Linked DNA regions of Homo sapiens. The protein of the gene in region 1 purifies or fractionates together with the protein of each later gene. This does not show direct contact. Each region holds a gene or a part of one and is shown on either strand. Other genes may lie near its edges.

Region 1 (3,274 bases):
TGATTTGCTAGTCCTGCCCTGGTAAGTGTCCTCAGACCTTGTGTGTTGGAAAGGAGGTGGTTTGATAGCTTCCTGAGGGGAAGTTTGAGTGCAAAGGGAACATGCCTTAGTAATATATTTCAGATTGGCAGCCATGGCAGAAGAATGTATATAATTTTCTAAAAGCTGGAGTAGGGGCAGTAAGCAGCATGGAAATGGTTGTGCACATATGAAAGTACAGAAGGTTTTTTAAACTTGGACAAGACACTTTATCACTGAGATCAAACAATTTTTTCCTGAATGGCACCAGCCCGGGCAAGTGGGGTTCATTCCTTCTGGGTATATACAGGAAAAAATGAGCAATAACGATGGGGTTTTAAGGGCTGCCTGCCAGGCTGCCAAATTTGTTGAAAGGTTTCTCTCGGTTATGGCATCTTTAGACTTTCGGCACCCCTTGCAATGGATAATGGTGGCCTTTGGTGGTAGTTTATCCACCCCCAGCAGCTTATGTATAAGTTTGCCATTTCTTATGGGAGTTCCTTTTGTAGTTAGGAAACCCTGTTCCTGCCAGATGAAGGCATGAGACTGTAGGACATGGTATGCATATTTGGAATGGGTGTAAATGTTGACCCTCTTTCCCTTTGCTAGGGTGAGGGCCCTGGTTAGGGCAACTAGCTTAGGCTGTTGAGAGGTAGCATGGGGTGGCAGAGCATTGGATTCTAGGAGTTTATTTTCAGCAATGATGGAATAGCCAGCTGCTGGACATGGCTCCCTAAAAGAGCTTCCATTAACTAACCGTGTATGTGTTCCCTGCAAAGGGGCATGTGAAATGTGTTGGAAGGAGGAGGAGAGGGAGTCTAAGAGGTCCAGACAGGAGTGAGAGAGCCTAGAATCGGAAGTGTTTACAGGGAGGAGGGTGGCTGGGTTGAGAGTTTTATATCTCTGGAAGGGGATTAGAGGGCTACCTAGGAATAAGGCATGTACCTGTTATAAGCAGGATGGTAGGAGGGATAGAAGGGATTGATGGTTTATGAGGTCCTGTAGGTAATGGGAAGATGCAATAGTAATGTGTTGGTAAAGAGGGAGTTTCCGTGCCTCTAAGGCCAGCGATGTGGCCACAGCCAAGATTTTTAGTCAGAGTGACCAGCCTTGGTCACACAAAACAACAGAGTCCAGTTGTTTTGAGAGAAGTGCAGTGGCTTGTGTGGCGTTGCCGTATGTTTGGCAGAGTAGTCCAAGGGCAAGGCCCTGGTCAGAATGTACATACAAAGTAACGGGCTTGGTGAGGTTGGGCAGTCCCTGTGCCAGGGCCATTAAAAGGGCATTTTTAAGTTTTTAAGTGGGAGTTGATGGGGCAAGCTGGGTTTAGGGGTTTTAGGATGGGCCCATGTGAGGCCCTGTTTAGTGGCTTGGCCAGCAAGTCAAAATTGGGAACTGACAGCCAGAAGTAACCCACAAGGCCCGAGAAGGAGAGAAGGTACTTTTTTGTGTGAGGAAAGGGCATGTCCCAAATTAGCTCCTTTCATTGGGTTGGGATGGCTCGAGAATTAGGGGTTAGGACAAACCCAAGGTAAGTAACTTTGGTTTGGGCTACCTGAAATATTGTGGGCTAGGCCCAAACTTTGGTTTGGGCTACCTGAGATTTCCTCTATTATGGAGGAAGTTTAAAACCTAAGTGGTGTGTTGGATGGACAGGTTAAGGAAGGGGCTACAGAGAAGGAGTTTGACATGTTGCAGGAGGGTGCTAGCAGCAAGGGAAAGTTCACCTAGGTCCTTGATGAGGGCAAGTCTGAATAGGTGGGGGCTATCCTGGAACCCCTGTAAGAGTACAGTCCACTCTAGTTGGGTGCACATGTGAGTATTAGGACTTGACCAAGTTAAAGCAAAAAGACTTCTGTAAGCCGGATTTAAGGGAATGGTGAAATAGGCATCTTTCAGTTCCAATACAGAGGAGTGTGTAGTAGATTTAGGAATATGGGAGAGTAGAGCATATTGGTTGAGGACCACTAGATGTATTGGTACCACTGCCTGGTCAACAACTTGGAGATCCTGGACAAAGGGGTAAGTCCCGTCTGTCTTTTGGAAAGCCAGAATAGGGGTGTTCTGGGGAGAGTTAACAGGCTTGAGAATATGAGCTTGTTAAAGTTTACAAATAATAGGTTTGAGGCCCCTAAGCACGGCTGGATTAAGGGGATATTGAGACTGAAAAAAGAAAATGGAGGAGTTTTGAAAGGTTATTTTAACTGGGATGTGATGTGTGGCTATTGTGGGTTTAGAAACATTCCAAGCTTTAGAATTAACAGAAGGTAACAGGGTGGATAATGAGGATGAGTAGGGGGAGAGGGAAGCGTTTGGGTGTCGGAGTAAAATAAAAGGGGTAGAATTGTAGGAGCCGCATTGCATGGAGGCCTGGAATTTACTTAATATGTCCCACCCCAAGATAGGGGTAGGGGACTGAGGGATAACCAGGAAACAGTGGGTGAAGGGGGCTGTTGAATAGGTTGCATAATAAAGGACGAGTCTGTGCCTAGAGGGGATTTTATTGATTCTCACAATAGAGATCGAAGAACAGAAAAAGGGTCTAGAATATTCTGGTAAAACCGAGTAACTAGTTGTCGTATTGAGTATCCAATAGGAAAGACATGGACTTACTAGAGACTGACAGAATTACCCTGGGTTCCGAGGTGGTGATGGCAGTAGGGGTGGTGGACTCTAGGCCCCACCTGTCTTCAGGTACAGGTGGTGAAGCTAGATGAAGAGTTTCACTGAGCACAGTCTGACTTCCAGTGTTGCTTGATATCACAGATGGGGCAAGGCTTCCAGAGTGTCACGGGATTAGGCCAGGCTTTTGCTCAGTGTCCCTGTTGGATGCACTTATAACAGGCTCCTGGAGTTGACTGTTGCCAAGTTGAGGAATTCTGTATGCCTTGGGAACCCTGTTGAGTGGCAGCTATCAGCATTTGATATTTAGCCTGGCCCTTTTTTAGGTTTGGGTTTTTTAGTTCTTCCTCTCTAATCTTATAGACCTTAAAGGCCACTTTGATTAAGTCTCTTTGGAGGTTTGAGGGCCATCCTCCACTTTTTAAAGTTTTTTTTCAAATGTCTGGGGCTGACTGGGAGATAAAGTGTAAATGGAGGTAGATTTTGCCCTTAATGGTATTAGGGCTTAAGGTGGCATATTTAGTTGTGACCTTTGAAAAGGCGGGAGAGGAAAAGAGCAGGGGCGACTTTATTTATGCCAGCTAGAAGGCATGATATCATATGGCCTGGTTTCTGCCTGTCTACAGAAGTTGCC
Region 2 (3,654 bases), on another chromosome or scaffold:
TTAGTGCATTCCTCCTTTTGAATCACTTTTTTCCCCAAATGTCAAAAGGGGGTATATGGGGAACAAAAAAGATGGGCTCAAGTTGCTGGAGGCACTACCTCATGAATAGGCTGCAGAACTAAGGGGTTGACCAGGGGGATTCATGCAGATTCCCAGGGCAGTTTTTTTTTTTTTTTAAGACAGAGTTTCGCTCTTGTTGCCCAGGCTGGAGTGCAAGCATGATCTTGGTTCACTGCAACCTCCGCCTCTCAGGTTCAAGTGATTCTCCTGCCTCAGCCTCCTGAGTAGCTAGGATTACAGGCACCTGCCACCATGCTTGGCTAATTTTTTTTTTATTTTTAGCAGAGATGGGGTTTCACCGTGTTGGTCAAGCTGGTCTTGAACTCCTGATCTCAGGTGATCCATCTGCCTTGACCTCCCAAAGTGCTGGGATAATAGGCATGAGCCACCGCACCCGGCCCCCAGGGCACTTTTTGAAGGCACAGGTGTACAGGTCCTCAGATTTTGGACAGGTTCCAATTTGAATAATTATATTCTCTCTCCCTTAGTACCCCCTGCTGTTTCTGGTGGATACAGAATTCTTATTCACTCCCTGCACTAAACTGTTGTGTAGAGTTGCTGTGCAGCTGTTAAACAGCTGCCACATTTCTCTCCATATATAGTCTCTAAAGCATTTTTGGATGAAAGGAATTATATAAACATATTTTATTGTCATGTACTGGTTGCCTTACCACTTAGTTGTAGGTTTTGTGAGGTTGTAACTATTAAATTCAAATCCATATTCCACAGCACATCAACGTTTAATTTCTTCCCCCACCTGCTCTCCAATGCTCTCTAAACAGCAAGGCTCTTACCACAAGGGTCCGTAGACAGAGTGTCCCTGCAGGAGCACGGGGGTCCAAAGCAGCCACAAGATCCCACACTTTAATTTTTCTAAAGATCAAAAAGGGGACAAAAATGTTAGTTAAAAGCAAATGTAAGAGAAGGCAGGGAAGAATAGCAGAAATTCATGGCAATAAATATGGATGGTGAGTATAGTTCAAATGTACGTGATTAACCTACAAATGAGAAACAGGCTAGCTTTAACCAAACTGAAGACAGTTAACAGTAAAGTTATACCATACTTTGGGATCAAGAGGAGATCTTGTACATTAGACCTTTTAATGATATTACACAGACCTAGAAATCTACAACTGTGAAGCATCCTCTTCCTGGGCACTTCTAAGAGTGGCCCAGGTCACATGTACTGAGGGACTGGGGTCCATGTAAGAGCAATGGAGTTTATATAAGCAAGCCCTCATCTTTTGATTTAAATAAGATAAGTGTAGCTCTTCCAAAAATCTTTTAATAGGCCATGTTTCCTCAAGGTACATAGCAGACAAATTCCAAGACAGGTGGGTACAGATCAAAGCCAGGACAATAAGAAAATATTGTCTTGACCAAGCTGGAACATGTCACCACACTCTGAACAATTTCCCAAGGTTGTAACAGTGATGGCTGTCCCAAAGCAGAAGAAGTGAGCAGTCTACACTTCCTGCTGCTTGCATTGGCTAATGAATGTATCAGTGTAGTTAACTCATGAACTAAAATAATGTTGTTAGTTTCTGATATTTAAAAAGCTGCCAAAATCAGGCAGATTGACAAAAAGAAATGATAAGAGTTCTTCCTAAGTGAATAACTATTTTTTTTTCTTTTTTTGAGACGGAGTCTCGCTCTGTTGCCCAGGCTGGAGTGTGGTGGCGCAATCTTGGCTCACTGCAACCTCTGCCTCCCTGGTTCAAGCAATTCTCCTGCCTCAGCCTCCTAAGTAGCTGGGATTACAGGCGCCCGCAACCACACCTGGCTAATTTTTGTACTTTTAGTAGAGACTGGGTTTTGCCATGTTGGCCAGGCTGGTCTCGAACTACTGACCTCAAATGATCCACCTGTCTCGGTCTCCCAAAGTGCTGGGATTAAATGCATGAGCCATTGTGCCCAGACTACTTTTGTTTGAATTTACTCTGTGTTTAGGATTGGTGGACATGGGGTCCATTCACAAAATTAATGGATTCCATAACCACTAGAAATTAGAAGAAAATAAAGATGACTAAACTCATAAATGAAATGCTAGGATGACAAGTGATGACAAGAGAACTGTACTCTTAAAAATTACTCAAAGAGATAAAAAACCCAAGAAATCAAAATTCAAGATCTTACCACACTAAGTCCCCAAATACTGCCCTCTAGTGTTTCTGTTTTGTTAACAGGTTACCCTTTTACATGGGTAGCCTGTTAACACTGGGTTTTTCTTGTTCTTTGCTTTACAGGGCAAAACAGTCAAATACATAACCAAATAACCAAAATATGAATGACAACCATGTGCAAACAAGTATAATAAAATGAATGGGAAGAATATTTCAGGACACTAAACCAAGGAGAGGTAAATACACGGATTAAAGAAATATGGTATCAGATATTTTGTGTAAAATCTATAAGCTTTTAGAAACAAGGAATGGTTATGTTTAACACCATAAACATAAGGAAGGATTAAGACGTAGATTTTCTCTTTTTTACACTCTGTTAGCACACTCACCCATCATAGGCCCCACTGACTATCCTCTTGTTATCAAATCGAATACAACGCACCAATTCCTCATGGCCTTCTAACACTCGTAAACATGCACCACATTCTATGTCCCATAATCTGGAAGAGAAAATTAAGTCAGGTGAATTTTCACGTATTCTTTTCTAAGCCTGGAATGTTATAACAATACACCTCATATGCCTTCTAAAAATTCATAAAATAAAATCAATCACCACCCACACAGATATGTACTGCTTTCAATGTAATTTATTTCCTTTCTGCTATATAACTCACACAGAAATATGTAGGTTTAAGTTCAAATGTAAAATGTATTTTCAAAGCACAGGGCTTTACATAATTCTGTAAACAGGTTCTTCCAGGCATAAAAACGAATTCAATGCACGCAGTTGCCTGAGAAGGAAATGACCAAGCTAAGAAAGCAGTTTCCTGAAGTCACCAAACTGAAAGAGATACAGATTATCAGTGATGTCCTGTTCTCACAAAGCACCTCCCCCTCTGCCACGGCAGACACTTCTTTCACCACTGTCCAGGACAGCTCTTCTCAGAGAATAGAAATGCAAAGTCAGTTCTCAAGAACTTTTGTGTACTAATTATAAAAACTGTACGTTTTCAGAGCAATTCAAGTGATTTCTAGGAATAATTTCCTTAGATATAACAAACAGTAGCTCTTTTTTAATGGCCTTTTCATCCTTTTAATACTTCACTGAAGGGAGAGGATGGATAAATCTTCCAAATTATAATCATATCTATGTCATTCATCTTTGTGAAGGGAAAACCCCAAAAAGGACTTCCAACTGTGAAATCTTCATAATTTCAAAGACAGGTAACTCTCTGGCCAATTATGTAATGCTAAGACAAAAATTACATAATTTCTAGTAAGGAAACAAATCTTTCTTTTCATTTCTTAAAAACAATGGCAAAGAAAAGGCTGTTAGCTGTTTATTAGCACTTTTCAACGGTAGACAGGAGAAATTTAAAAAGAAGGGCAACAAAAGGCTTTGCTGTGCTGCTTCTCTGCCTGGGGCAAACTTCTGACCTGTAAGAAGCTACAGAAAGGAAAAACAGTTGAT

Evidence for each region. The genes of interacting proteins can lie anywhere in the genome.
Region 2: the proteins of SPANXN3 (region 1) and BTRC purify together in Homo sapiens (affinity purification with mass spectrometry; 4 studies listed by BioGRID and IntAct, with this or other methods). This does not show direct contact.

What each region holds. Positions count from the first base shown.
Region 1 is NC_000023.11:143,511,276-143,514,549, reverse strand, and holds part of SPANXN3 (sperm protein associated with the nucleus on the X chromosome N3), read left to right. Parts: intron 1-3,274.
Region 2 is NC_000010.11:101,535,572-101,539,225, reverse strand, and holds part of BTRC (F-box/WD repeat-containing protein 1A), read right to left. Parts: intron 2,684-3,654; coding exon 2,573-2,683; intron 934-2,572; coding exon 855-933; intron 1-854. UniProt on the Homo sapiens protein: Substrate recognition component of a SCF (SKP1-CUL1-F-box protein) E3 ubiquitin-protein ligase complex which mediates the ubiquitination and subsequent proteasomal degradation of target proteins. Recognizes and binds to phosphorylated target proteins.